Linked DNA regions of Homo sapiens: all the other regions are linked to region 1. Evidence: fine-mapped expression QTL. A gene starts in region 1. Each other region holds a variant in brackets. All regions are shown on one strand. Distances are from middle to middle.

Region 1 (7,463 bases):
CCACCTGTCATCACAGGAGGGGCATCCTCCCGAGCCCCACCCTCTGTGGCCCACCTCACAGCCAGTCAGTTGGGTCCTGTCCACTCCACCTCCCAGAACCCTGAGTCAGCCTCCTCTCCTCCACCCGCTCAGCCACCCAGGAGAGGCCTCCCTAGTGGCTGCCTTCTGTCTCCTTCCCCATCTCCTTCCCAGCAGCCCTTTCTCCACACAGCACCCATGGGTTCATCTGCAGACAGCATGGCCACACATGCCACTCCAGGTCACTTTGGTGGCTCCCCACAGCCCTCCCTCTGCTCTTGCCTGGTGAGGTCCTAGGGAGAGCTGGCAGGGAGAAGCCCTGAAGGTATGCGAGCAGAGAGGGTGTTTCCCAAAAGCAGCCTGGCTCTGGGCAGCATGGGGGATCCCGAGAGAACCAGGATCCAGGCACGAGGAGCTGCCCGGGATCACATGGGAACAGTGGACGTGGGGAAGGGCACCCAGCATGAAACGGTGGAAATGAAACTCCACTGCTTCTGGGACAGGAAAACTCTCGCCCACTCCGAAGGCCGGGTTGGATGTCTGTTCCTCACAGACTGGCCCGGCCCAATCCCTGTGTATGGAAGGCAGGGAAGCCAGTGGGGCACCAGCACTGCGGGCAGCAGGGTCACCTTTGAAGGAGCGGGTGCATTACACTCAGATCGCTCACAGCTGCGTCAAACAAACTCCAGGAGAAAGGACTGCGGGGAGCCACCGAACTGCATAAAGGGAGGCTCTTGGGAGTGGAACTGTGGCAGTTTCCTTCTCTTTATGTTTCTGTTATCTTTTATGTTTCCAGGTTTCTCCTTATTCTCTAAGACGAGTAGTATTGCCTGGACGAGGAACGCCCTACACAGTGCCTGCCAAAGGCTGACTGTCATCCCTGTGTCATTTGAGGGTAAGAGTTTCTCAGGCCCTTGGAGCCCACAGCAGCAAGGGAAGGCTGACCCCTGCTCGCCACCACCTGCCTTCCCAGCGGTTCCGGCCGGGCTCACCTGACGGCCTCCGTCTCCAGGGAAAGGCCCAAGGGACTCAGGGGCAAGAGGACCCTTGCCAGGGAGCAGTGGCACCTCGGGGCCTCCCATTCCAGCCCCGCACCCTTCACGGCTCTGTTCTCCTCGACATCCCTCCTGTGCCTGAAGGAACCGCCTCTCACCCACCTCCACCTCAATGCTGCTGCTGGGGCTGCTCCGGACCCTGTTCCTGTCTCTCCCCACTTTCTTTTCCTAGAAAACAGGAGAGTGAGAACCAGCCAGCTGGCAGGGATGCTCTGAGGAAAATGGGAGGCAGCCCCGCTAGAACCCTAGGGGGTGACCACAGGCAGCCAGTGGGCCTGCAGATGCCACTCTCCGGGGGATGAGTCCCTCCATCTCACTGCAGAGGGGCCTGGGCCAAGGCTTAGAGGTGACTCCAAGTCAGGGGAGCTAACTGGGAAGAGAGGCTTGGGGAGAAGAAAGGGAAGTGTGTCTGGAGGGCAGGACTTACAAAGTGACAAGTTACAGGCTATTTTTGGTTCCTGGGCTGCCCTGAGACCCCAGGCCACAGCCTTAATGGCGATCACAGAGGCAGCTCCCCTGTGGGCCTCGGATTTGAGACTGCAATCCTGGACACTGCCCTGTACCCTCCAAGCCCCTTTCCCCAGCAAAGCCACAGGTCACTCTCCGGGCTGGGGCTCCCCAAGAGCCCCAGGTCATGGGATCCTGAAGAACAGCATCCCCCTGCCAGGACTTGGCTGGGGGAGACCAGGGCCTCAGGGACAGCCCCCTCCCACCCAGTCCTGAGTCATGCACTTGTACCCAGCTAGGTTCCAGAAAGGGCTGCAGGGACAAACACTGGCCGGACACTGGTGGACCTGTGACTGGCCTCCTGAGTGGCTCAGCCTCTGTGGCCTCTGGTGACCTCATCTGTGAAATGGCAACGAGGGGCCTGAGAGCAGAGGGTGGGCCAGGCCCAGGGGAGCGCCCTGTCCCCAACCAACCCCTGCACAGCTGGTGCTTGGGCGCAGCTCTGGCCAAGTTCCAACATACCCTTCAACATTTTTAACATTTTTACCACCCCAGGTTTACAGAGGAGGAAACGGAAGGCTCCAGAGATGACACTCACCGGGATCGGGGATCGCACAGCGCGGGCTCGGGGAAGTTGGGGGAGGCACGCAACCTTTGAACCTTTTGCCCGTGGTTGGTGTCTGACCTTGGACAAGACCCCCTCCCGCAGCCCTGGGCGTCGGTTGTGAGCAGACGGCTGTCCCATCTTGCAGCGGGCGGGTGGGCAGGAGCTCCACCTTCCGCTGCAGGCGCTCGCCCAGAGGAAGAGGCGCGGGGGCTGGGGGACCCCTGCCCCGACGGGCGCTGCCGCCCCGGCAGCTGCGAGAATCCGACGCGCCAGGGCGGAGCGGGGATCGTGGCGCCGCGGGGCTGTACGAGGGCGAGCTGCGCCTCGGCCAGGGGTCCCGCAGTCCCGCCTCCCCGGCCCGGGGGCGTGGGTGGGGGCCGTTACCTTCCCGTCATGGTGGCAGCGACGCCGAGCCCTGGGTTGCCGGGGTTGCCGCGGGTCTCCCTCTGCTGCTGCAGCCGCCAGCCGAGCGCCCGCCCGCCAGCCCGGGCCGCGGAGCAGGGAGACGCCCAAAAAAGGCCAAGAGCCGCTCCGCCCGCGAGAGGGGTGGGCGGGGGTGGCAGGGTGGGGCCCGCGGGGCGGGGTGGGATGGGGAGGTCAAGGCTGAGGGTGGTGGGGGTGTTGGGGAGGTGACGGTGGGAGGTTGCGGGAGTATAGGTGGGGGTGGGGGTGGCAGGTGGGGGTGGCGGCGGGTAGGGTTGGAGGGGTGGGGGTTAAAGGTGGGGCTGACGGTGGGGTTGGAGGGGTGAGAGTGAGGCGGGGGTGGGAGTGGGGGTAAAAGTAGGGGTAAAGGTAGAGGGTGGGCCCCGCTCCCGCACAGCCCCAGCTCCAGGGACACGGAGCGCGGCCAGCGGCGGGCGCGGGTCAAGTCCTTCCCAACCCGGGCTCTGCTCGCCACCTCCTGGATTCCGGGCATAGCTTTCCTTTTAAAGGGAGTAAAGTTATAATAAACGCGAACAAGCACCCCCACCCCCACAGCCCCGCCGGGACGCCCCGCCCGGCGCCCCCTCTGCAGTCCCTGGGCCGCCCCAACCGCAAACGCGTGCAGGAGATGGTAGGCGTGGGGGCGATGCTGAGACCACCTCCCTCCCGGGCTTTCCTAGCCCGGAGTTCCCACCGCGGATCTGGGCACTGACTCCCTCCCGAGGCACCCGGGACCGCCGAGTCCACGCAGTCCCGCCCCCAGGGAGGCTAAAGCCGAGAGGCGTCCCTCTTCAGTCGCAAAGCTGCTTTCCCCGGGAAATTCCGATTTCATCCCCCGTTGCGGGCCATCGCCCTAACTTGGCGAAAGATATTTCTTAAACGACAAAACCAAATGCCCAGCTCCCAGGTTTCCAGGGGAACCAGGCACGCCTCTGTATAATGAAGCGCTGAGAAGCTACCATTAGAGGCGTTAAGATGGAGGGGTAATATAAACTATTTAGGGAATCTCTTCGGAGGAAATTTTCAAACAAACAAAACAAAAAACCCCCGCCCTGCCTAAAGGCAGATATTTCCAGCTGGACAGTGGCGTGCAGCTCATCTTTGGAAGCAGCCCAGATGTCACACTGAGGTTTGGGAGCTGGGCGGCCTGATGTGTAAATGTGGTGCTACTCCGGTCTTGGCAGCAGAGAAAGATGATCTAGAAATGACGGTGTGAATTAGCAACCCACAAATAAACTGGTGCCGTTCAGAAAGATGAGTTGATAGTATCCTGCAGTTCCACCTGCAGAAATAAGCTGGGAAAAGACACCTGTTCCTAAGTGGCTGGTATTGTGGAGTGCCTTTGCAGTTGTTACTTTTTTTTTTTTTTTTTTTTTGAGACGGAGTTTCGCTCTTATTGCCCAGGCTGGAGTGCAATGGTGCAATCTCCGCTCACTGCAACCTCCGCCTCCCAGGTTCAAGCGATTCTCCTGCCTCAGCCTCCCAAGTAGCTGGGATTACAAGCATATGCCACCACACCCAGCTAATTTTGTATTTTTGATAGAGATGGGTTTCACCATGTTGGTCAGGCTGGTTGCAAACTCCTGGCCTCAGGTGATCCGACTGTCTCGAGTTATTACTTCTTGTTGCGAGCGTGTCTCAGCTGATTCGGCTTAACTGTAATTTGATGGTTGATTAAGCTTAAGTATGGATAATTTCTTGGCTCACCTGCTCATACAGGGAGAAAGGCTTTCCACCATTACTGACACAGAGGTGTAGGCATGCTGGGGCCGTGCACCAGAAATCCACTGCTGGACGGTTAATTGAATATCAGGGTCTTGTGGGAACCAAAGAGGATGAAAAGTTGAAAGCATTACACCAGAGGCCCATGCTCTCCACAGAGGAGACCACATTCCTGCCTTTTAGCCCAAAAGCCTCCCTGCATATGATAGCTGAGCACACACGGATCTGTATGTGGCCAAACCAGGACCCTATGCAGCTCCCAGTGTGCCTCATCCCTGGGCCAGGGCAAGCTCAGTAACAGCTGGTAGGGGTTGTGGGCATGGCTTAGCCCTGCTGGAGATGCAGAGGCTTCAAGGAGCCAGGGCCAGCCTCCCACAGTTCAGCCAAGAGGGCAGAGTTGCAGGAAAGAGCTGGCAATCACACATTCACACACTTATCCACTTGTTCCTTCAAGAGTATTTATACCGCATGGGCACTGGAAGTACTAGGGGGAGAAAGAAGCCATGGACCAGGCTCTCATGGAGTTTAGCAGGAGGTGGAGGATGGGCAATAAACAAATAAATAAATACGCAAACTAGATTTTAGACAAGGGTAAGTGCTGCAAAGAAAAGGACAATGGTGGTGGCTGCTTTAGAGTGAAGGGTGAGGGAAAGTTTCTGAGCAGGTGACATTCAAGCTAAACCAGAATAAGGGAAAGAGCCAGCCCTCAGCCATCTGCAGGAAAAGCATTCCGGCAGAACAGCAAGTGCAACAGCCCTGAGGTGACATGAGCTTGGGGTACGCAAGGTCAGAAAGAAGACCAGTGGGTCTGGAAAAAGGGGAGGTGGCAGGTGGAGGGGCACGGGAAATAAAGGAGAGGGCCCAGGGCAGAGCAGCAGGGCCACAGCAGAAGTAGGATTCCACCCTTAGATGGAGAGTTCTAAGCAAAGACAGACACAACACTCTAGCATCAGCAGGGGTGAATCTCAGAAATACTGACTGAATGAAAAAAGAGCACCTTTTCCATCTATATCAAGTTCTAGAATAGGCAACATTTGTCTGTGGTAGAAAAAATCAGAACGGTGGCTGCCTCAGGCTGGTCTATTACACCCCGGACTGCCCTGAGGTGGCAGGACAGGGGTTGACTAGGAAGGAATGTGAGGGAGTTTCTGGGGTAACAGGCAATGTTTTAGTAGGAGTTTGGGTCACACAAGTGTATATGCCTTTGTTAAAACTCATGGAATATATGGCCAGGATTTGCACATTTCATTATATGTACATTTTACCTCAAAAGAAAAATACCGTAAACGATACTGAACTCCAGTTAATGACATACAATGCTGAAGTGTTTAGGTAGAAAGGTACTGATGTCTGCAACTTACTTTGAAATACATTGTTTAAATCAAGATGAGCCGATGTGGTGGATCCCCGTAGTCCCAGCTAGTCCTTAGCTACGGGGAGGCTGAGGAGGGAGGATCACTTGAGGCCAGGAATTCAAGACCAGCTTGGGCAACATAGCATGACTCTGCCTCTAAAAAATGAACTCAAGATGGGGAGATGGGTAAAGGGAAGGACAGAGAGGTGGTAACGTGAGTCTACGACGATATTAATGGGAGAATCTAGGTGGTGGGTATCTGGGTTTTCAACTTTGATGAGTGCTTGAACTTTTTCATAGCAAAAGGGGGAAGTGTCCCTAGCTGCTGTGTGGCCACTGTGTGAGGGACAGAGTGGTCTCAGGGACAGTCTGATTAGAGGCTATGGTGAGCGTCCAGGAGGGACTGGTGCCTTGGGCCGTGCGACAGTAGGGACATTGAGAAGGCATCAAACACAGGATCTATTTTGCAACCAACAGGATTTGCTGGGAATCTGGATGTGTGTGTGTGGCCGGCGTGGGCGTGGTCAGCACAGGTGTGGTGGTTGTGGGGCAGGTGTGTGTGTGGCAGGTGTGAATGTACAGCCGTGGGAGTCAAGAGGACTTGCAGGTGGCCTTGCTTTCCTAGATATTGGTGGCAGTGGGACAGTCTGGGCAGGTTAGCGAGGGGTGACGTTGCATTGGGCCCTCCCCAGGCATCCCAGGGGAGATGGTGGGCGGGGCACTGTGAACCTGGAGCAGGGAAGAGAGGTCCATTCTCCAGCGTAGATGCAGAAGGCTTGGTACAAATGGAATTTCAACTCTAGGGCTCCATGGAGACCCTGGGGTGTCTGTACCAGTCAGGAGCCCTCCAAGGGTAAGAGGTGGGACTGGCAGAAAGTGAGGGGGAGAGCAGGAGAGTGTGAGGTGCCACAGAAGCCCGGAGGGAAAGAGCTCCAGGGAGGAGGTGCGCCACTGCCCCGTGTGCACACTGCTGCGTGCAGAGGCCAGGGAAGCATCTGGGTTTGGGTCAAGAGCCGGTCCCTTGGAGTGAGGGGCCTGAGTCCAGCTGCAGAGGGGCAGGCAGGGCCCCTGCAATGCCTCCCCCAGGAGCACCCCTCCCTGGGGTCTGTGTAGATGGTGCTCCCCAGAGTGCTGCACACAGTGCCCCTGGGGGGAGAATGCTCTGAAAGGGGGGGCAGAGAAGAGACGGCAGTTGGAAGTGGGGAGGGGAAGGGGAGGGAAGGTGAGAATGCAGTGTCCATTCCCAGGTCTTATGGGATGGCATCACTGAGGGACATTCAGAGAGTGGCTTGAATCACACACTTAGTCTTCGCTGGGGGACAGTGGGGCTCTGAGGCTGAGGCTGGGCCACAGAGTGACATGACAGCTGTCCTAGAAGGTGAAGGAGGTGCAGCATCTCCCTGGGCACGAGCCTTCTGCCCTCTGGGGTTCAGGGCAGGTGGGCACCCCCTTTGCTGGGCAGGTACCCGAGTTTCTCCACCCCCCACCTTCTCCCTTCCCTACTCCAGGGGACAGCTACCTGAGACAGCCCAGGGCCCAACGCTCGTGGGAGCTGGGACCCAGGGCCAAGAGAGGGGCTGGGCTTGGTCAGCGTGGCTAATCAGCAGTAGGAGGCTGAGGAGAACCCGGGGTCTCAAAGTGCCTCAATGAGCCTCCGCCAATATCCAGAGCCACAGCCCTGTCCCCATGTGACCACAGGGAATGGAGAAGGCCTTGCAGCTCTCAGGAGGCCTCAGGGTCTCCTGCCACAGCCCAGGTCCTGGGGCAGGAGCTAGCATGCCTTCCCAACAGGTAGGCTGTTCATCCTGCCTGTTCCAAGAATGGCCCCGTGTGATGT
Region 2 (7,463 bases), 39 kb before region 1:
CAGCACAATGGTCTTTTTGGCCTTGATATTCGGGTCCCGGTAACAGGAAGTTCCCACAGTCTGGCTGCTGGGCTCTCAAGGCGAGTCAAAAGGCCAGGCCTGCAGGGCCCCAGGACAGCGAATGCTGGGACTAAACAACATGAACCTCTGGCCAGGGTTCTGGAAGGGAGGCTTGCCCTGCTCAGGGCAGACCACATCCAACCCAAGTTTCATGAAGGAGCAAAAGTGCCAGGCTAGGAAGGCTCATCCTGGGCTGTACTGGCCCCTAGCCAGGCCCCGGGCCTCACCAGCTGCCTCTCTGTCCAGATGCTGGAGGTGGTTGCCAACACACGGGTGCGGGATGTGTGTGACAGCATTGCCACCAGGCTGCAGCTGGCCTCCTGGGAGGGCTGCAGCCTCTTCATCAAGATTTCAGACAAGGTGGGCCGGGCTGGGGCTGGGCAGACGGTGGGCGGACGGGCAGTGAGCGAGGCCCTAGGTGCTGCCTGTGGGGGCCTCAGCCTACCAGGGGCACCCATGCTGGACCAGGCTGCACGGCCAGGGCTGCTGGGACAGAGGTAGGTGGGGTCCTGGAGCAGAGCCAGCTCCACACGCCAATAGCCCACGCACAGCCGACTCCAGCGCAGCACCCAGGCCGTAGGCGGCCACTGGACCAGAACCCAGCAGGTTCTCAGGAGGACAGTCCCCGGAAGCCACCCAACTTCCCTGTACCTTCCCCTTCCCCAGGTCATCAGCCAGAAGGAGGGAGACTTCTTCTTTGATTCCTTGAGGGAGGTGTCTGACTGGGTGAAGAAGAACAAGCCCCAGAAAGAAGGTGAGGAGGCCTCTGTGGAGCTGGGGGAGGGCGTGGCTGGGTGGGTCGAGGGGGCACTGGCGGCCTCTGTGCGGCCCATGCCCATTCATCCATCCATTCGTTCCCGTGTGTCCCTGGGTTGTGGGAACAACCAGGCCCTGGGGCCCGGCGGTGAGGGCCAGCTCAGGCAGAAACAGGTGGCTGCACCTTGGAGTGATGAAGGATGCCCCAGGGCTGAGGGGCATGACCCTCATGGGCTGGGAGTGCGAGTCCAGGAATGTTCCTGGAGAAGGCAGCCTCTACACTAATATTGAAGGAAAATGTGGGGACTGGGGAGGAAGAAGCGTGGGGGCTTTCGAGGCAGGGAGGTGGCAGGCGCAGTGTGGGGGGTGGCAGGGGGTCAGGGCTGGTGTACCTGCTGGGACAGGCTTGGTGCCCACTGCTGGCCCTCGCCCAGGGGCCCCCGTGACGCTCCCCTACCAGGTGTACTTCATGCGGAAATTGTGGCTCAACATATCTCCAGGGAAGGATGTGAATGCAGACACCATACTCCATTACCACCAGGTACCGGGCAGGCTGCCCTGGTGGGCACTGGGGCCACCCCCATCTTCCCACACCTGTTCTGAGGCTGTAGAAGCCAGCAGGCCAGGGCAGGGCCAGCCTCAGCCCTGGGTACCAGCCCATGTGGTAGGCAGACCAAGCCCCTGAGGGCTCTGGAACCAGGAGCAGAGGGCAGCAATGTTTGGGGACAGTGACTGCACTGGCACCTGCAGCATGACTTGGAGAGGGTGGGACAGAGGGTCCTGTGACCCATGGAGCAGTGGCCGTGGCCTGCAGGGCCAACCACATGGGTGGAGCAGGCCATCACCTCCACGCAGATGTCAGGGGGCCCTGCCCTGACTCAGGGTCATTCCCCTGGCCTGAAACTCTCTACCCTGCTCAGTCCGTCCTGGATGGAGTGGGCTAAGCCCCAGTTCCCCACCATCTGAGCGGGAAAGAGGTTGGGGGCGGGTGGGCCGCAGCTGGAGACCCAGCATGCCCAGTGTGTCCATCACCCAGGAGCTGCCCAAGTACCTGCGCGGATTCCACAAGTGTTCGCGGGAGGATGCCATCCACCTGGCGGGCCTCATCTACAAGGCCCAGTTCAACAACGACCGGTCCCAGCTGGCTAGTGTCCCCAAGATCCTGAGGGAACTGGTGCCTGAGAACCTCACACGCCTGATGTCCTCGGAGGAGTGGAAAAAGGTCCCTGGTCGGGCTGGGGAAGGGTTCTTGTGCTGCTGCTCCTCCCTGGGCCCCTGCACCAGTGCCATGCCCTGCCTGGGCTCCAAGATCACATGGGTGCACATGGGTGGTGTGGAGGGTGGGCTGGCTCTGCACACACCACGCCTTCCTATGCCATCCACAGCACCGAGACTGTCCCATGCTGCATTCCTCCCCTCCCCTCCCCACCGTACTAGCCCTGGGGTAGGCAGGTGCTGCCCCCACCAGGGCTTTGGAGGGCCTCTGGGCACCCAAGTCCTTACTGGCCCTCCTGTCCCCCAGAGCATCCTTCTAGCCTATGACAAGCATAAGGACAAGACAGTGGAGGAGGCCAAGGTGGCCTTCCTGAAGTGGATCTGCCGGTGGCCCACCTTCGGATCCGCCTTCTTCGAGGTGAAGGTAAACCTTGCCCCACGCCAGGGCCTCCTACCCAAGCAGGCTCCGCTCAGCCCAGCCCCAGCAGGCCCAGCGTCAACCAGCACACATCTTGGGTGGGGCTGGCCGTGAGGCTGGAGGGCGTGGGTGTATGTGTGTATGTGCGTGTGGCCTAGATGAGCTCCTGGGAGGTGCAGCCTGGCCTCCCGGGCTGGACTATGACCGCCGTGTCCCTCCCTCCCAGCAAACCTCGGAGCCTTCCTACCCGGACGTCATCCTCATCGCCATCAACCGACATGGGGTTCTGCTCATCCACCCCAAGACCAAGGTAGCTGCTGGGCCTCCGGAGGGGCTGGGGGCCACCAGGTCCAGGGACCTGTGCAGGTGGGGCTGCAGTCATCTCTGCGGTGTGTCCTGCCTCTCTCCTGTCCCCTAACACACACAGAGCCCGTGCTCTGGAGGCGTCCGGCCCACCCACCCTCTCTGCCCCCAGGACCTGCTCACCACCTATCCCTTCACCAAGATCTCCAGCTGGAGCAGCGGCAGCACCTACTTCCACATGGCGCTGGGGAGCCTGGGCCGTGGCAGCCGCCTGCTGTGCGAGACCTCCCTGGTGAGCTCAGGTTCTTTCTCCCATCCAAGATGCATAGGACAGAGCTGCTGGAGACTGGGTTCCCCACCCTCACCCCTTTCAAGTGGCTCACTAAGAGGGCTCAGTCACAGGGCCCAGGCGGGGCCAGCAGATCTGGAGAGGGCCTGGGTGCATCCCCAGGACCAGCAGCCAAGGTGGCAAGGCCAGGCGGGACCCCCTGCGCCCTTGGCCCATTCCAAGGAGGGAGGGAGACCCAGCTCCAGCAGGGCAAGCAGAAATGACGGCCCCAATGGCAGGAGCCCGCCTTCCCTTTCTCCATGCCCTGCACTGCTGGTTGCTGAGGAAGAGAAGGTGGTCCCTGAGTCCAGGACCCCCACCTGCCCTCTGCACCCACAGCCTCTGACCCCCCCGTCCCCTGTCCAGGGCTATAAGATGGATGACCTGCTGACCTCATATGTGCAGCAGCTCCTGAGTGCCATGAACAAGCAGCGGGGCTCCAAGGCCCCAGCCCTGGCCAGCACCTAGCAGCGGATGCTGGCGTGTCTGCTCAGGCGCCCTTCCCGACCTCTAGCCTGGCGGCACCTTCCCAGGCCCTCTCAACCCAGGGCCTGTCCTTGGCGGGCAGCCTTCCATGCTGCCCCCCATACAAAGCCCACTCAGCCCCGCAGGCGGCCCCCTCTGTCCTGGGCGCTGCCCAGGGAGGCCAAAAGACGGGCCCAGAATGGGGTCGGGAGTCTCGGACCCCCAGGCTATTGGTGGATGACTGACTGACAGGACACCTCCCAACCCCACCCCACCCCACCAGAATGTTCAATAAAAACTCCTGGAGCAGGAGAAGTGTGTCTGTCTGAGGGAGCAGGGTGTGGCACAAGGTGGACAGGGGGCCTGGGAGGCTCTGGCCCGCAGAGAGCTGCAGAAAAACCAAAATGCCGTGTGACTGACTCCCCCAGGGAACCCGGAGGGCAGCTGCATTCTCCAGAAATGACTTCATCCCTCCCTTTCTGCTTCCTTCCTCCCCCTCCCTTCCTTCCTTCCTGTTTCTCAGACTGGGGAGGGGCACTCATGGGAGAGTTCTCCTCCCAGGCCCCTCCTCACACCTTCTGTCCTTCTCCCCACCCGGGGCATTGATACGCCTGCGCTACCCCCAGGAGGCCAGGGTGGAGGTGCGGCTCTCTGGCTGCTGGCTTCATGCTATGGCCAGCTTATGCCCAGACAGACAGTGGGCAGAGCTGGACATAGCACCTTGGAGGCCTGGATTCCCCCACCTCGCTGGCATGCCCTGTCCCTGCCCACCTCCTCCTCTGCCCACTGGGCCAGCTTATGTGGACCTGGCCACCCAGGCTTGTGAGGACCTGGCAGGGCTAGTCTTCAACTGCTTATGGCAGCCTGGCCTGGGATAGAGGCTAGGGCCCCCTGAACTCGTGCCTGTCTATGTCTGTCCCTCTGTTCAACTGCCCCAGCAGCAGCGTGTCCAGAGCTGCTGCCATCCCCTCCACCCCCGACCCCCGCCACAAACCACGCAGGCTGCTGTGGTTGTGTGAACAAGCCTTCATTGTGCAAGCGTGAGCCCAACAAACAAACACCAGGTCTGCGCTGGCCGAAGACGAAGCGTCCTCCCTGGAGGTGGGAACAAGTCACCTCTGACCACACCTCCTCTGACGCCATCACCTCCTCCTGGCCCCACCCAAGGGCTCGACAC[A/C]AGCCCCAAGGTCGGGGGGAGAGGGGCGGGGCGGAACCGAGGGCGGAGGCCAAGGTGGGATTCCAGGAAGGCCTTCCGAAGGATGGAGGTGGGTCCTGTCCCTCCAGGTAGCTTGTGGGTGTGGACAGCAGGACTTGCTGGCTCAGTGTGGGCACAAGGACACTGTGCCACTGGTTGAGTGAGTGGTGAGGGATTGGAGGTGGCTCCCAGAGGCCTCCATCTGCATGGCCCTGGCCCTGTGGCTCCAGCAGGCTGCCCTGGCTGTGGGTAGCCCAGGAGCCACATGCGCTTAGTGGGGCCGCTCTGGGGCAGGGGCTCTCACAGGACAGCATGAGCCACTGAGCCGCCTGGGGAGGGCCAGGCCAGGCGGGGAGCTGTGGTGCAATTTGCTCCTGTCCCTGGAGGTCTGTGGGCGGAAGCTGTGGGCACAGGTGGACATGGCTGTCAGACGTGGGGTCATAGGCTCCCACTCCCCAGCTCCTGCCTCCTCACAGACAGAAGCCACGGCCAAGGAGAGGAGAGACATGGGGAAGGCAGAGATGAGGGAACAGGAAGGGAGAAGGCAATGAGGAAAGAGAAAGGGAGGGTAAGATGCGGAGGGCACAGGTGGATGGGGACGAGGGGGCCAAGCATGGACAGCAGGAGGGGAGAAGGCGGAGGGGCCGAGAGGCAGCTGCGCAAGAGGGCCTTCAGGCAGAGTTGAGGTCTGTGGCCTTGGGCTGGGCCTTGCGGGAGGTCAGCTCCGACAGCTTCTTCAGCCGCTTCTTCAGCTCCAGCGGGAACTTCTCGTAGCACCTCTTACACACGGGCTTCATGTCGAACTCCACAAACTTGTTCCTGAGGAGGAAGCTGAGCTGTCAGCAGAGCCCCACGCCCACCCCTTTAACCCCAGACAGGTGACTGTGGAGTGGGCTTCCCTCAGCCCCCAGCCTCCCCACACCAGCCTCTCCTAGCCAGCAGGCCAGGCCCTAGGGTGAGATGGCCAGAGAGCATAGGGATGAGAAGGGCCTTGAGGCTTCCCTTGCCTCCCAGAGGCTTCTCTCAGGTTCTGAAACCCCAGAACCCTCTATGCCTCCCCACAGCCCTTGGAAACCTGGACGCCATCTCTCCTCTCCCAGCTCCAGCCATCCCACACCCCTCGAGGCTTCCTGGATGAGCAGCTGACACTGCTGCTTTTGCATATGCTGTTCCCTGAGCTGGAATGCCCTTCCCTCCCCAGAGCCCAGGGTTCTGGCAGGTGTGTTGGAGGCATGAGTGTTCCTCCTCCTCTCACTGTGCCTGGGGTCCCTGGGGTCCCTGGATCCCCTAGACCCCCTGAACCTGCCCCCATCTCCCTGGGTGGTATAAGGCCGGGCTGCCCCTTGTCCCCACCATATCCCCAGGCCAGACTCAGCTGGTGTGCAGGAGGGCTGCTGAGAGGAAGGACCTGCAGGAGCCCCCTCCACCCTGAGCCCCATCCCACGATCACAGGGACTCACTTCAGGGTGAGCTTGCTGTTGCAGGTGGAGCAGGAGAAGCAGCTCACACACCAGGCCTTGTTGAGGGCCGACACCACTGTGAGGGAAGCGTGGGACTCAGCAGGCCTGGCTAGGCTGCCGCAGGCCCGGCTGGGCTCACAGCTGCAGCACCCAGGCCCCAGGAGAGCAGGTGGGGTGGGGGAGGGAACACAGGGCCTCACCATCGCCTTCAATCACATGGCTGCAGTTGTAGCAGACGTCCCCGAAGAGCTGTGGGCCGAGCAGGCTGTCAGAGTAGCTGCAGGCAGTCACACCCCAGCCCAGGGCCATCATGCAGCCAGCCTGGCCCTCCAACACGGCCCCTCTCAGGCATCTCCCAGGCCCTGCCTCCCAGGGCCCAGCTGCAAGGCTGGGTTGAGGGCACGGCAACCCATGAGAACCACCCTTCCGGGAAGGACAACAGGCTGGGGCGTTGCTCCCCAGAAGGCCCCTCTGCTCTGGCCACTGCTGTCCTGCAAGGAGGTGGGCCCAGGTGGTGACTGCATCCCACCAGCGCCCCCTGCCTTCTGTACCAGAGCAAGGGAGGGAGGGGGTTGCTGGCACTGTCAGCCCCATGTGCCCGGGACCTCACACCAGCCCCAGAACATTCTTCAAAGGAAGACACTGAGACTGAAGAGAGCTGCCCAGGTCTCGAGACCCCAGGCCAGGAGCCAGGGCTGAGGGTGCAGGCCTGGGCTCAGCACCTGGCAGAGCTCCTGAGGGGGTGCCCACAGCCTCCCTTGCTCACGGCAGCTCTCCTGGCCACCCCTCCAGACCCGCATCCCTGAAGGTTCTGCACCGGGCTCACCTGGTTGTAGTGAGTCTCGCAGTAGGCCAGGCCCTTCTTCTCATAGTGCCGGTGCCCCAGGAATGGCTTCTCACACTTGGCACAGACAAAGTGCTGCAAGGACAAAGGGCGGGCCGGGTGGCATCAGGGCTAGAGCGGTGACCCCGAGGGACAGTGGTGACCCGGGGACAACAGTGACCCCAGGAGCCAGTGACTCCAGGGGACCACAGTGGCCCCAGGAGGCAGCAGTGACAGAAGGGGACAGAAAGCAGAGTCTGGGCAGGTGCAGGCCTTTCAGGATTCACACTGGGCAGAGGGGACTGACACCTCTGTGAATGCCCTGGGGTCAGCAGACCCTACCCCTCCTCTAAGGCACTGATGGTAACCTTGTGAGTCACCATCCCCTCCCAGTCTGGCCTCCCCCTCGGCAGCCTCAGCCCCAGGAGTCAGGTGCCAGC
Region 3 (7,463 bases), 27 kb before region 1:
ATAAAGGCCATGATTTATTCTGTGTGCCCAAATGGGGCCTCATTATACAGGGCAGGACACAAGGACCCTACAGCAAGTGTCCTCAAAGAGTCGCCTCTCACTCCGTGAGCAAGACTCCTCGGCCTCCCACCCTCCGTTCACAGGCCCCCTCCGCCGTCTGCGGGCGCAGGCCTGGGAGCGCCGCCTGTTGCCATGACAGCCGGCCCCTCCCTGCCCCCCATCAGTAGGAAATCATCCCCTTCTGAAACGTCCTGTTGTGTCCCTCAGCTCCAGCCCAAGCCCCCCACCCAGCCCCCGCCTGCTCTGAGTCTCTGAGACAGTCACACACTCAGACTATGTGGCCAAGCTGGGGGCGGGGGGCATGGGCTAGGGACACACTAGAATATTCACGCTCCGGTGGCAGCAGCAGCAGCAGCCAGAGGAGCAGCCCGACACAACAAGGGACCCCTCAGGAATGAAGCAGCCTTTCAGGGCCAGAGGGGCTGTGGTCTCCCTTCCTCTCCTTAAATAGCCAGCGTTCCACCCACAGCGGCAAGGAGCCCCCTGCCACCACCGACACCCACGGGCGGAGATCACCTGCTGCCCCGCAGACCCCTGTCCCTTCCTCCCGGACCAGCAGCTAGAGGTAAGGGGCAGGCTGGGTGGGGTGGACTGGGAGCCCAGGGCTAAGCAGAGGAAACACTCAGCGGGGAGCCCTGCCCAGGGAGACAGGCAGCAGCCTGTCTCGTCCCATCTCTTTGGTGATGGTCTGACCTGTGCATCGAAGGCTGACCACAGTCTGAATTCACAGCAGCCCACAAAGCGGTGTTTCGTCCCTCTGATGGGGGCTTGCAGAGGGGAAGTGGCTTGCCGGCAGTCCAGGCTGCAATGACAGCACCGCTGCCCCTAACCATTAGGCAGCCTTGACCCATAGAGGAGCCAGATGCCTGGGAGAGGGCTCGGGCCAGGGATGGAGTGGCGCTAATGCAAAGGAAACTGCCACCACCTGGCCATGGCGCTGCCACCACAGGCCCTCCCCGAGGCCACACATGCCCACCTGCCACCTCCACAGAGGCCTATGACCTGTCCTAGATGCTCGACTCACCCACAGCCACGGGACCCAACACTGCCCAGGCCCCGGCCCATGCCACGCCCTTTCCTCTTACGGACACCGGCTCGGTGGCCGTCTGACCAGTGAGTCGTGAGGAACCAGCGAGTCTAGACTGAAGTTTGTGTTTCTAAAGGGCAACAGAGAGTGAAGCGGGGCCCATCTCAGACCAAACTGCAACAATCAGTATCAGAACTCCTCAAACGGGGGACAGAAAGGGAGAAGAAACCTCAGCAAACCTGAAACCAACCAGAAAGCTGTTTAAAATGGAGTCTCAGTCCCAGAGAGAGCGAGGGGCACGCCCTTCGGCCCGGGCAGGAAGTGGAGGGCAGTGCCCAGGCTGAGGCCCCCGGGCTGGAGGCAGGAGGCACCACAGGCCCACCTGGTGCCATGAGATATGCCACCCCTGCCGTCACTCAGGGCCCTGAGCCCAGTAACACTCTGCCGTCACTGTCCTGAAACTCTTCCTTTTTGAGCAAGGGGCTGCACATTCTCATTTCATACATGGGCCCCTAAAATGAGGGAGTGGCCCCAGGGCCAGGAGGGGGTGCTGAGCCTGGGAGACAACTCCATGGCAAACTCTGAGACTGAGTCACACTCCCCACCCTGGCGGTCTTCCAGGGAGTGAGACCGTTTCCCCGGTCTCACTTCCAGCTCCAGGGCCAATGTCCCCTGGTCAAGTGACCTAAGACAAGTTAGCAGACACTCAGCCTTGACTCCCTAACCTGCAACATGGGGCTAAAACTGGTTTGAGCCAGCACAGGCAGGCCCCCACCATGCCAGGCAGAGTGGTCAGTCGTACCTATGAGCTGCTCTCTCGTGGGGCCAGGTGATGCCTGCACTGTGGGGCACAGCACAGGCCTGAGGGACAGCCTGGGGTGGAGGGCACCCACCTTGGCCCCTTCCCACCCCCAGGTTCTAACAAGGGCCCCTCACTCACTGGGCCCCCTCTCCTCTTCCAGTCTCCAGGGCCTCCCCGCACACACCTTCCTCCTCTCCTGCCAACCTGAAAACAGCACACCTGTGTGCCCCTCCCATCTACCATGGGCTGTCCTCTCTGCTTGCCCATGCGTCTGCCCTGGAGCCCTGTTCCTCCAGTCTCCGGGTCCTCACCCCCAGCACATGCAACACGACACCCTCAAAGTCATGGGCCCCCCTCCCCTGCCACCGTCCCACCGGTACCTGCTCCCTGTTCTCCCCTGCCTCACAGGCCCTGTCAAGGGCTGTGTTCCTCCCTCCTTTTACCTCTCCTCCACAGCCCCCTTCACAGCCCTCAGCCCTTCCCCAGGGCTTCAGCCAAGCCTGTCTCCCTCTCCCAAGCATCACTCACCCCGCCTTCTTCGGCCCTCAGCTCTCCGCCCTCACCGTGGTTTTAGCAGTCCTAGGGAAAGTGCCAGCCGAGACCAGCCAGACCAAGTCAGAGTACTGTGGAACCTGGATTCCTGGGGAATGGGGTCCCCATGAGGAACTCCACATTGGACTAAGAACAGACCCTGTTCCTGGAAGCAGCAGGAAACCATCTCTGGTGTTAGAACTTCAGGCATCTTGAAACACTCTGAAGCCGGGGGCAATCTTTTCAGGTAGGGGAACCTGCCTAGAGAAATAGCTAAAAGGTAATATTATTAGGTAGTTGCCCTCCCCTTTGCTTGAGGACATTGATGGCCAGGTGCTCGGGCCAGCCCTCACCCTCCATGTGAGGGCCACAGCAGCTGGCCACTCGCTCTCCTGAAGGAAGGGTGCGGCCCACCCTTCCCTAGGGCTAGGGCCACCACCATGCCTGCTTCTCCTCCATATGAGGATGGCTCCAGCCTCCTCCTCGAGGGGCTGCTGTGTCCATGAACAGTCACCATGCCCTCTCTGCCCCGTGCCACCAGCATCCTGAGACAGCCCTGTGGAATCAGTAAGAGGAGAGGGGCTGGGCGCAGTGACTCATGCCTGTAATCCCAGCACTTTGGGAGGCCAAGGAGCACTTTGGGAGGCCAAGGAGAGAGGATCACTTGAGCCCAGGAGTTTGAGACCAGCCTGGGCAACATGGCAAAACCGTCTCTACCAAAAAATACAAAAATTAGCCGGGTGTGGTGGTGTGCGCCTGTAGTCCCAGCTATTCAGGAGGTTGAGGTGGGAGGATCACTTGAGCCCTGGAGGTTGAGGCTGCAGTGAGCTGATTGCACCACTGCACTCCAGCCTGGGTGACAGAGGGAGACCTTGAAAAAGAGAAAGAAAAAAAGAAAAAAGAGAGGGAGGGGAGGGGAGGGGAGGGGGGGAGGGGAGGGAGGGGAGGGGAGGGAGGGGAGGGGAGGAAGGGGAGGGAGGGAGGAAAGAAAGAAAAAGAAAGAAAGAGAAAAGAAGAAAGGAAGGAAGGAAGGAAAAAGAAAAGAAAAAAAGAAAAAAGAAAAGAAAAAAGGAAAATAAAGAAAAGCAAGCAAACAAGCAAAGCGAAGTGAGAGAGAGAGGAAGGTAGGAAGGAAGGAAGGAAGGAAGGAAGGAAGGAAGGAAGGAAGGAAGGGCAGGGAGAAATGTGCAGAGTGAATTTGCTGCAGGCAGGACCCCGGCTGTTCGGTGCAGAGCCAGGCTCGCCCAGGATGAGGACCCTGCCAGGGCTGTGGCCCGTGCCTCCTCCCCTCCTGCTGCCACAATGGGCACAGGCAGGATGCCAGCTTCTCTT[A/C]TGCAAACCTCTCTCCAGCCTCTGCTTCAGCCTGGCTGTGCAGGGTGGGGATGGTGGATACTGGGAAGCCAGGTGCCCAGAGGAGCCCCAGAAGCTGTGCCATCATCAGCACCCACCTGGCCGAAGCCCGCTGGTGACCCCAATTCAAAGGCAGGCCAGGTGCGCTGTCCTGCCCTGGTTCCGGGCTGCGGGCTGCTCTGGCCCCACCGCCTGCCCACACTGCCACTCGCAGGCCTGGGTTGGGGAGGCAGAGTGTTTGGGACCCTCACTCTCCTTCTTCAATCTTCTGAGTTGACTAAAATCAAAACAAGAGTGGGTTTCTCTGCTGAGGGTGGGGAGCACCCTATCCAGACCCAGGGTTCACCAGACGGACATGACTTGTTACCCAGGACTGTCACAGGGCTCTGCACTTGGCCTTCAAACGTGGGCAAGCCACGAGGCCTCCAGGCCTCTCTGGGGCTGCAGATCCGTCCTCAACAGCGCTGGCCAGTGTCTCTGACGCTGGGTAAAATGGGTCTTCCCCTCCTGGAAGAGATGCTGCCCCCTGGTGGTGGATCTACTCTGGGAGAGAAAATACTCCCAGCTGGCCTGATACCCAGGCACAGGCTTCTCCTAAACACAGGTCTCCCCACCTGTCAGGATGTCCAAACGGAGTTGGTGGGCTGGATCCAGAAAGCCCCCAAGAGAGATGCTGAAACTCTCAGGTGGGTAAAAAGAGTAGACCTCTGACGTCCCAGGGTACAGCCCTTGCTGCCATCCTGGGGGCACCCTCCTAAGTGCCAGGGGCAAGCCATGGTCAGGGGAAGCAGAAAGCGGTGACACCCCGGCCACTGCACCTGTGGGCAGGTGGGTCAGGGAGGGTCCAGGCACTCAGGATGAACAGAACTCACCTGCCAAGGCTTGGGCTGAGGAGGAGCTGGAATCCCGGAGACACACTGCCCCCGCCCCTCACCACCCCTGTCACTCAGACAGCACACCTCAGAGGCAGAACAGAAAACCCAGAGCCTCACCCAGGCAAGGCTCACGTCCCATTCCCCGCCATGGCACTGACCCGGTCCTCCCAGCTCTGAGGAGCCTCAGATCTCCTGGGTGGCAGGGGTGCAGCTGCATAGCGGCGAAATTCCAAGCCCTGGTTCTGCGTTTGCCTTGTGCTGAAGTTCAGAATGCCTCTGACGCTCACGCACACCAAATGGACAAGGAGGTCCCCTCAGCAGCCCCGTGGGCGGTGCTGAGCTTGAAAGTGGGAGGTTCTGAAGGCATTGGAGGCCTGACTTCTGGACTTCAGAGAGCGTGAAGCTGCCTAGATCGCAAGCTCATTGTGAACTGTTTGCTTGTTCCCTCCAGGCTCTGACTCCAGCCAAAGCATGAATGGCCTTGAAGTGGCTCCCCCAGGTCTGATCACCAACTTCTCCCTGGCCACGGCAGAGCAATGTGGCCAGGAGACGCCACTGGAGAACATGCTGTTCGCCTCCTTCTACCTTCTGGATTTTATCCTGGCTTTAGTTGGCAATACCCTGGCTCTGTGGCTTTTCATCCGAGACCACAAGTCCGGGACCCCGGCCAACGTGTTCCTGATGCATCTGGCCGTGGCCGACTTGTCGTGCGTGCTGGTCCTGCCCACCCGCCTGGTCTACCACTTCTCTGGGAACCACTGGCCATTTGGGGAAATCGCATGCCGTCTCACCGGCTTCCTCTTCTACCTCAACATGTACGCCAGCATCTACTTCCTCACCTGCATCAGCGCCGACCGTTTCCTGGCCATTGTGCACCCGGTCAAGTCCCTCAAGCTCCGCAGGCCCCTCTACGCACACCTGGCCTGTGCCTTCCTGTGGGTGGTGGTGGCTGTGGCCATGGCCCCGCTGCTGGTGAGCCCACAGACCGTGCAGACCAACCACACGGTGGTCTGCCTGCAGCTGTACCGGGAGAAGGCCTCCCACCATGCCCTGGTGTCCCTGGCAGTGGCCTTCACCTTCCCGTTCATCACCACGGTCACCTGCTACCTGCTGATCATCCGCAGCCTGCGGCAGGGCCTGCGTGTGGAGAAGCGCCTCAAGACCAAGGCAGTGCGCATGATCGCCATAGTGCTGGCCATCTTCCTGGTCTGCTTCGTGCCCTACCACGTCAACCGCTCCGTCTACGTGCTGCACTACCGCAGCCATGGGGCCTCCTGCGCCACCCAGCGCATCCTGGCCCTGGCAAACCGCATCACCTCCTGCCTCACCAGCCTCAACGGGGCACTCGACCCCATCATGTATTTCTTCGTGGCTGAGAAGTTCCGCCACGCCCTGTGCAACTTGCTCTGTGGCAAAAGGCTCAAGGGCCCGCCCCCCAGCTTCGAAGGGAAAACCAACGAGAGCTCGCTGAGTGCCAAGTCAGAGCTGTGAGCGGGGGGCGCCGTCCAGGCCGAGCGCAGACTGTTTAGGACTCAGCAGACCCAGCAAGAGGCATCTGCCCTTTCCCCAGCCACCTCCCCAGCAAGCAACCTGAAATCTCAGCAGATGCCCACCATTTCTCTAGATCGCCTAGTCTCAACCCATAAAAAGGAAGAACTGACAAAGGGGATCCATCGGCCACCCCTCTGCAGGGGCTTGTGATGGCTACAATGGCTCCTAGACACTCAACGACTTCATCTGTGGCAGGGAGAGAGGAGGCCGGAAGAACAACCCCTGAACAATGGAGGCCTTTCTTTCCCGCTAGGCTCCCAGCCTCCTTCCCGCTACAGAATCGCTCATCGGCGAGGCTCAGCAGAAAGACCCTGAAGGCAGGCTGCAAATGACCCAGAAGAGGGACCTGGGAGTCCTGGTGGGGACGGGGAGGGAGTCTCAATACTCCTTTGCAGTGCAAGGTACTCTGAGTCCCCTCTGTAGTGCCTCTGCCAGACACACACTGCCTGAGTTGAAGAGACACAGGCCACACATTTCAGGCTGGTTGCCAGCGGACGTCAGCACTCACGGCCTGCAGGGACTCAGCACAGCTCTGGATTCTGGATCTCTCCTGCTGTAACCCCACGCACAAGCCTGCAACCCCCAGAGCTCTTTGACAGGCTCCCAGGCCTCCCAGTCCTGGACAAGCATGTGCAGTCACGGGAGCTCAGCTCAGGCCAGGGCTGGGCTGTGCACCTGCCTCCCACTGACCCAGACCCACTTCCTCCAGAGAGGCCTCTCTCCGCCTGAGCTATTTCCCTTGCTAGTGTGCAGATATTTCCCTAACATGTCCTTTTTTGTATTTGTTTGTACGGACCATAAATATAACTGTAGCTTTAAGACTACACAGGTTGTTATGTTTGGTCAACATGAAGCGTTTCCCAGAACTTCTCTGACCCAAGAATGGTGAAGTGGTGGTACAGTGGCAGAGGCAGCCTCGTGGGCTCTCTTGCTGGGGCTCTGGCAGCTCACAGCACATCTGCCCAGATTCTGAGGTTCTGCACTGTGGGGCTGGGAGGGCCAAGTAGGGGCCCTCATTCCTCACTCTAGCTGCCACCCTGCACCGTCCTTACGGCAACATGCTTTTGTAGCATGTTTGACTTTCCAAAACGTTTCCAGCATCTTTCAGATTTCCCCAACCAGCCCTTGGGGCAGTGGCCCTGTGCAAACCTTGGCTCAGGAAGGAGATTGGGCTCGCTCCACACACCCTGTCGGCGACGTTGCTGGTCAGCACGAGCTCCTGGTGCTGTCCCTCGGCCCCTGCACTGCACCGTCTGCCCCTCAGCCC
Region 4 (7,463 bases), 55 kb before region 1:
TTTTTTTTTTTTTTTTTTTTTTTTTTGAGACGGAGTCTCGCTCTGTCGCCCAGGCCAGACTGCGGACTGCAGTGGCGCCATCTCGGCTCACTGCAAGCTCCGCTTCCCAGGTTCACGCCATTCTCCTGCCTCAGCCTCCCGAGTAGCTGGGACTACAGGCGCCCGCCACCGCGCCCGGCTAATTTTTTGTATTTTTAGTAGAGACGGGGTTTCACCTTGTTAGCCAGGATGGTCTCGATCTCCTGACCTCATGATCCACCCGCCTCGGCCTCCCAAAGTGCTGGGATTACAGGCGTGAGCCACCGCGCCCGGCCTTGTAACGGGGTTTCTTATTCATCTGGTTGGTTTTAGTTTTTTCTGGGCTTTAGTTTTTTTTTTTTTTGCTCCAGCAGACCTTCCTCGCTCAAGTCCTTATAGGACCCTATTGTCCCTATCTGTTCCTGTCTGTCCCTGCAAGTTTCTCCTAGTCTTTGCTAGTCCTTGCTAGTCTTTGTCTATCCCTATCTGTCCCTATAGTCCCTGTTAGTTCCCGCAAGTCCCTGTCTTTCCCTAGCTCTCTCTATTTGTCTCTATTTCTATTTATCCCTACTTATCTCTATTTGTCCCTGCAGGCCTCTTCAGGTCCCTTCAGGTCTGTTTGTCCCTGATTGTCCCTGTTACGTCCCTGTCCAGGCAGCACTTGCAGCAATTTGCCACTGTTACTACTTGAGATCGTCATTACGGGAGTTACTACTGTCACTACTTGAGACCGTCATTACGAGACGGAACGAAGGGGGATGAACGTAGAAATGAAAACTTAAAACAAAAGAAACTGTTTTAAAGGGGCCAGGGGAAGAAAAAGGGCTCCCTACTCCTAGTAAGCAAAGACAGCCCCCACCCCAAGCTTCTTCAGCCCTTAGTATTTATTGGGTAGAATAAGCAGGGAGGAGGAGGTAACGATTGGTCAGCTGCTTAACTGATCACAGGTTCATATTATTACTAACAGGCTTCAGGTGTGCCCTGTAGATAATCACAAGAAACACTTGTGCCTGGGTCGTGACTGCCCTCAGCATTCCTTCTGGGCGGCAGACGCAGTTTGTCAGTTTGCCAACATTCTGCTTTTATGAGAACAGTTTGCTGTTTGCTCATATAGCCTCCAGTGGTATACTGAGCTGATCACGACCCTCACTCTTTCGGCCTGCATCAGTCACCCTTGAGACAGCCCACAGGGTCTGGAATTTATGAGTGGTTTGCCATTGTTGGGGCATGGAGCTTGGATTCCATCCTAAGGGAAGTGGGGAAAGTTTTAAGCAAGAGAGGATCTTGATCATATTTGACTTCCAGAAAGACCTCCCTGGCGATGTGGCAGGATGGAGCCTGGGGCTGGGAGGCCAGGCAGGGCTGCTACAGAGATCCAGAGAGAGCTGATGAGGAATTGCCCAAGGAACAGGAGCCAAGAGGAGGGGACAGAGGAAACATGCAGGAGACAGATGGTAGCATGTGGGCACTGGTTGGATCGTGGGGGCTGGTTGGATTGTGGTGGCTGGTTGGGTTGTGGGGGCTGGCTGAATGGTGGGCGCTGGTTGGATTGTGGGGGCTGGTTGGGTTGTGGGGGCTGGTTGGGTTGTGGGGGCTGGTTGGATGGTAGAGGCTGGTTGGATTGTGGTGGCCAGCTGGATTGTGGGGGCCGGTTGGGTTGTGGTGGCTGGTTGGGTTGTGGTGGCCAGCTGGATGGTGGTGGCTGGCTGGGTGGTGGGGGGTGGTTGGGTTGTGGGGGCTGGTTGGGTTGTGGCCAGTTGGATGGTGGTGGCTGGCTGGGTGGTGGGGGGTGGTTGGGTTGTGGGGGCTGGTTGGGTTGTGGGGGCTGGATGGTGGGGGCCGGCTGGGTGGTGGGCGCCAGCTGAGTAGTGGGTGCCGGCTGGGTGGTGGGGGCTGGATGGATGGTGGGGGCTGGTTGGATTGGAGGAATGAAGGGATGGGAGGGCTCCAGGATGACCCCCAGATTTCCAGTTTGGGTGAATGGCTGATGGCGATGCCTGTAGACCACAGAAAGAGGAGGGATGCAGGAACTCAGAGAGCCAGCCATGCACATTGCTTCCCATCTCTGTTCGGTGATGTCGTGTCGCAGTTGACATTGGCTTTGGTGGGAACATGTACACCACAGAAATAAGCAAATGCTGTGAATTGGGCTTTTCTTCTTGGGGGAGCTGGTTGATAAACATTTACCAGCACACCACTGAGTATTAGGGGAAAGATGCTGGCCTCTGGAGATGTGGCATTTGAGGTGTTAATGGGCCACTTTTATAACATGATAGAGGCTTGAGTCCATGGGGAAGGACGCAGGAGAGAACCGCCCCCAACACACCCCCACCAGGAGTGGGGAGGCTCCACAGACCGTGGGAGTAGGAATGGTCAGGAGATGGGGTTGAGTGGCTCCCATGAAGTCCTCACTTTTCTCTCTGCTGTGGAGGGGAGGGGCTGCATTCAGGGAGGGAGGTGGGGCCTCAAGGCAGAGAGAGAAATGACTGTAATCACCGTGAGACTGGGGATCCCGCACATCTGGGAGCAGATGGGCTGTGCAAAGGGCGCGGCTGCTGAGGACAGGGCTGTGGCTGGAGAACCTGCTGCTTCCTGAAGCCGAGCCCCACCCTAAAGGACCGAGAGCACAGGCCATGGGAGAGGAATCGAGTAGGGATGCAGAGCCTGGTGGCACTGTCCTGAGAGAGGAGGAGGCTGGGCAGGGCCCCGGCGCTGGAGAGGTGCCCTGCATATGGGACCTCTCAGAGGTGCACAAGAGCTGTGTGCCCAGGTACCCCTGTCTCCTCTCCTCCTCCAGCCCCCAGCCTACTCTCCTAATGGTCTGTGTCTTTCAGGGATGAGATTTACTGCCAGATCTGCAAGCAGCTCTCGGAGAACTTCAAAACAAGCAGCCTGGCCCGGGGCTGGATCCTGCTCAGCCTCTGCCTCGGCTGCTTCCCACCCTCAGAGAGGTTCATGAAGGTGAGAGGGTTCATGAAGGGAGGGCGGGCAGGGGGCAGGTTCTGGTGGGAGCGTAGGTGGCCCCTGGCCCTGGAGCAGGTCCACAGATTCCAGTACGTGGCCCATTTCTCCTGCTCCTGCAGGCCAGATGGGCAGCCATGCCTATGCTTCTCCAGGACTCAGTTTCCCCATCTGGAAAAGAGGACCCTGCTCCTGGCTCCTTCCAGCCCCTACGCAGGGTCTGCAGGGCCATTTCACTTTGGCTCAGGTGTCAGGATGGTGCTTCAAGACTAAAATGAGAAGGTAGATGACACGGGCCTTGAAAAGACAGGTGTCCAGGAGTGGGCCCTGCCTGGAGATGTGCCACGGCACCTCTTTCTAGTTCTTAGGACTGAAAATGGAGCTGGGTTGGCCGAGTGTTAGTGGCCCCAAGCTTCACTGATTTAATATGCCTTTAAATTCTGATTATAAAAGTAATATGTGGAAATGCAGAACATCTAAAACCAAAATAAAAGTCACCCCCACACTCAGAGCTAACTTCC[G/A]TTAATATTTCCTTCTGGCCTTTTGTGGTGTTACAGGGTCCTTGTGATCAAACAGAAAACACTTTCTCACATGTCCCTTTGGGGACAGCAGGAACCACGGTCACTGAAGCCATCTGCGCATGGCACTCAGGCTGCTCCTGACACCAGTAAACCCTTCCAGGCTGTTCCTCCCCACCCCAAGGCAGAAGAAATAACATCTCTCTGTGAGACAAAAAGAACTTCAATGTGTTTTCTTGAGCATGTTGGGGACATGGACTCTTCTGCAATTTTTTTTTTTGTTTTTTTTTTTTTTTTGAGACGGAGTCTCACTCTGTCGCCCAGGCCAGAGTGCAGTGGAGCGATCTTGGTTCACTGCATCCTCTGCCTCCCGGGTTCAAGCAATTCTGCCTCAGCCTCTCGAGTAGCTGGCATTACAGGTGTGCATCACCACACCAGGCTAATTTTTGTATTTTTAGTAGAAATGGGGTTTCACCATGTTGGCCAGGCTGGCCTCAAACTCCTGACCTCAGGTGATCCTCCGACCTTGGCCTCCCAAAGTGCTGGGATTATAGGTGTGAGCCACCATGCCTGGCCCTGCACTTTTCATTTACTGTCTTCATTATGTTTTCTCATGGTGTCAACCTCCCAAATGCCAGCTTGATGCCTCGCTGTTCCAGAAGGCACTGGGGTTGGGGGTGGGCATTTAGAGTCCATCTTCCAGTCATTCATCACCATAGAGGCCATCACAATCAAAAACCACACATCCACCTTTAGGATAGGCCTGCATTGTTGTGACAAAGAGTGTGCACACATCAAGACTATGCACCGTTTAAAACGTGTTGCCAAACTGCTCCTCAGAAACACACTGATCCATGTTCCTTCTAACGGGTGTGAGGGTGCCCCTCAATGCACATTATACACTGAGTATTATAATTCTTAAGTCCACCTGGGTGGTGAGTAGAAACTGGCCTCCTTTCTGAGTGTCTTCCTCCCTTCTCCCCTCCTCACCCACCAGTATCTACTGAACTTCATCGGCCAAGGGCCGGCGACCTACGGCCCCTTCTGTGCCGAGCGCCTGAGACGCACCTATGCCAATGGGGTGCGTGCGGAGCCCCCCACCTGGCTGGAGCTGCAGGTAGGGGCTGGCAGGGGTGAGAGCGGGCAGGGTGGGGTGGTGCAGACCCCCAGGGACCCCCAGCACAGCTCATGGGGTGCCTTCTCCTAGGACAGAACTTTGTCCTCTGAGCCCCGCCATCTCCTCTGCAGTACCTCCCATGCCAGTGGTCCCTGTGAGTGCCCCTGGGGCTCGGCCTCCCCAGGCGTGACCCCCATCTCCAAATCCATATTCCTTTAGGGCCCTACTAGCTAAGGGGAAGATCACCGGACCCACTCATTAGCATTACAGTGCGCCAGTTGCTTCCAGCACTCCCCTCCAAGGGCATTTCACTTGGTGACAAGGGCAGTAGTCACACCATGGTTGGCATCCTTGGTGGCATTGCTATTGGGCACATGTGCCACCTCGACCTGCTTTGGCAACTGTGTCATCTGTGAATTCTCGCTGTTTTCTCAGGAAGGGTCATTCAGAACAGCCAGCCAGGGTGGCGAGAGCACACCTGCACCCGGCTCTACACAAAGCTCTGGCCCCAGCCTAACCCCGGCAGGTGCCCGCCCTGTGACCCGAGGTGCCCTATACCAGGAGCTGTGGGTCACTTCCGCTGCACCTTCTTTCTGTTCTCACCCTGCCCCCGAGCCCACAGGGGCTCCCTCCCACGAGCCCTGGAATTGTAGGTGAACTTGCAGTAGCTGTGCATGTTGACACAAGGGAACAATACGTAAAGGCCCCAAAATGTTCCCGAGTCCTGGACTCAGATTCCCAAGAGCTCCTGGTCTTCTGTGAGGTGAAGTCACTGAACCACACCAAGCTCAGGATTCTCATAAAAGCAGCCACTATGGCCTCAGGCTGCCCCCACTGGAGGTCCAGGAGGACCTGGACGCCTGTGGCTAACATTGCTCTTGCCTGGTTGCTGTGCTTCCAGCGGCAAACACCTGTTGGCCTGAATTTTGTTTTCTATGCCAAGCCCATGGCCTGGGGCTTCAGAGGGCCCACCCCTGGGAACCCACGGGATGGCAAGCAGGGCCCATGGGCTGGGGAGAGGAGGGAGGTAGTGGATGGGGGGTTGGCCTCCTGTCCATAGGTTCCAAGAGGCCAGGGAACTGAATCTCATCTGTCCCCAGGCTGTCAAGTCCAAGAAGCACATCCCCATCCAAGTCATCTTGGCCACTGGAGAGAGCCTAACCGTCCCCGTGGACTCAGCCTCCACATCTCGGGAAATGTGCATGCACATCGCTCACAAGCAGGGCCTCAGCGACCACCTGGGCTTCTCCCTCCAGGTCGCCGTGTACGACAAGGTACCAGCCAGGCACCCTGCCCGTCAGCCGCCTCCCTCATACACCCAGGGAGAGCACCCTGAGGCTCAAGCCCTCTCACCTTTCCAGCCCGGCCACCACCTACCCTCCCAGCTGCCAGGCACAGCACTGCTTACCCTCCCAGCCACCAGGCACAGGCAGGTGCACACACACAGAGCAAACAGCCTTTCCTCCCGCACTCATATGGTCACCTTGCAGCTGCGCCTCAGCCCCAGCAGTGCCGCATGCACACCTGGTCCCCCACCCAGCAGCCACGCACAGACATCAGGCACTCACACCAGTCTCCTGCTCCAAACTCCCTCATGCCCAGGAGCTGTGGACACCCCTGCAGCAAACATGGAGGGTCACACCAGCACAGACCCTCACCGCCCACATAGGCACCCCCAATTCCACGCCCACACCCTCAGACTCACACACCAGTCATCCAACCGAGGCGCCGGATGAGTCACATCGGCCAGACTCATGTCTGCCTCCTTAGGGAAGGGGCTGCAGGGAGAGTAATGGGGAGTGGCAGATGGGCCATTGCTGTGTGGAGAAGCCCTTCAGGTGTCCACACGGGCTCAGCAGTGTCCACTCAGCCCACGCTGGGCTCCAAGGGCCCCAGGCCCTGTCTTCTACGTGCACACGCTGACGGTGGGCGTCCCCGTGGGGTGGGGCATGCAACAGCCGCTAACCCCTGCTCCCCGACTCTGGCCTCAGTTCTGGTCCCTGGGCAGCGGGCGCGACCACATGATGGATGCCATCGCCCGGTGTGAGCAGATGGCCCAGGAGAGGGGCGAGAGCCAGCGCCAGTCACCCTGGCGCATCTACTTCCGGAAGGAATTCTTCACCCCCTGGCACGACTCCCGGGAGGACCCTGTCAGCACCGAGCTTATTTACCGCCAAGTCCTCCGAGGAGTCTGGTCTGGCGAGTACAGCTTCGAGAAGGTGAGGGGCCTGAGAGCCAGGTCCACCCTAGGCTTTGCCATCAGGAAACATCCCATAGAGGAGGCACCCAACTGGCTTCTGAGGCCAGGTAGAAGGTGGGGGGGCAGGAAAGGGGGTCACAAGGGTGTAGGTCCCTTCCAGGCCCAGCCTCTGTTTCCTCCTCCCTTAGGCCACAGGTATGTCCAAGCCTCCGGGGTCCGTGGTTCTGGCAGCAGGTCCCAGAGGGCCCAGGCCTTGCCTGGCCTCACCTCTCCTGCTCTGTTTATGGGGCAGTGAGATCTGGTGGCCAAGAACATGGCCTTGGAGCCCTAACACCTAAGTCTGAATCCCACCTCCCCATCTTCTTGGCATTGTGACCTTGGAAAGTCCTGTCACCGCAGAGCCCTGGGCCCTCATCTGACTGGGGGGCTCGGGAGGGGCTCTCACCTGGACCGTGCGGAGTGTACCGGGAGCTCTTTTGTAGGGGATTGTGAGAAAGCAGAGTGATCGTACCCCTGAAGTTCTGGGGGCAGCAGGCACAACCCTCCCTGTGCCAAGTCAGGCAGATGCTGTTCCGGGACCCATTGGAGGCGGCCATAGCAGTGCAGGAAGCCCGCCTGGAAGAGGCATGGGCAGGGGGTGGCAGGGGAC

What was found.
Region 2: its variant is fine-mapped to the expression of LIMS2 in whole blood (TOPMed, PIP above 0.99).
Region 3: its variant is fine-mapped to the expression of LIMS2 in tibial nerve (GTEx, PIP above 0.99). The same link has a PIP of 0.9 or more in sun-exposed skin.
Region 4: its variant is fine-mapped to the expression of LIMS2 in whole blood (INTERVAL, PIP above 0.99).

The regions. Positions count from the first base shown.
Region 1 is chr2:127,672,503-127,679,965 of GRCh38, forward strand. It overlaps LIMS2 (LIM zinc finger domain containing 2), which reads right to left and starts at 3,028. Exons shown (of 10, transcript NM_001161403.3): 1 at 2,512-3,028. The coding sequence starts at 2,522.
Region 2 is chr2:127,633,870-127,641,332 of GRCh38, forward strand. It overlaps MYO7B (myosin VIIB), which reads left to right. Exons shown (of 48, transcript NM_001393586.1): 41 at 307-420; 42 at 727-814; 43 at 1,251-1,357; 44 at 1,853-2,038; 45 at 2,339-2,455; 46 at 2,676-2,759; 47 at 2,925-3,044; 48 at 3,447-3,857. The coding sequence ends at 3,548. LIMS2 (LIM zinc finger domain containing 2) reads right to left here. Exons shown (of 10, transcript NM_001161403.3): 7 at 7,027-7,119; 8 at 6,401-6,449; 9 at 6,201-6,276; 10 at 4,557-5,559. The coding sequence ends at 5,412. Among named protein-coding and RNA genes, the nearest start is that of MYO7B-AS1, 6.8 kb to the left of the region's middle. RefSeq lists enhancers at 1,984-2,930, 2,931-3,877, 3,878-4,824, 4,825-5,770. The variant A/C (reference allele first, on the strand shown) is at 4,723.
Region 3 is chr2:127,645,620-127,653,082 of GRCh38, forward strand. The region is part of intron 4 of LIMS2 (LIM zinc finger domain containing 2); the gene reads right to left. GPR17 (G protein-coupled receptor 17) reads left to right here and starts at 534. Exons shown (of 2, transcript NM_001161417.2): 1 at 534-625; 2 at 5,097-7,020. The coding sequence starts at 5,117. The coding sequence ends at 6,136. RefSeq lists enhancers at 3,341-4,068, 4,095-4,389, 4,795-5,522, 5,523-6,248, 6,668-6,727 and 1 more. The variant A/C (reference allele first, on the strand shown) is at 3,753.
Region 4 is chr2:127,617,488-127,624,950 of GRCh38, forward strand. It overlaps MYO7B (myosin VIIB), which reads left to right. Exons shown (of 48, transcript NM_001393586.1): 27 at 2,853-2,979; 28 at 4,495-4,614; 29 at 5,715-5,888; 30 at 6,606-6,833. Among named protein-coding and RNA genes, the nearest start is that of MYO7B-AS1, 9.6 kb to the right of the region's middle. RefSeq lists an enhancer at 2,712-2,761. The variant G/A (reference allele first, on the strand shown) is at 3,501.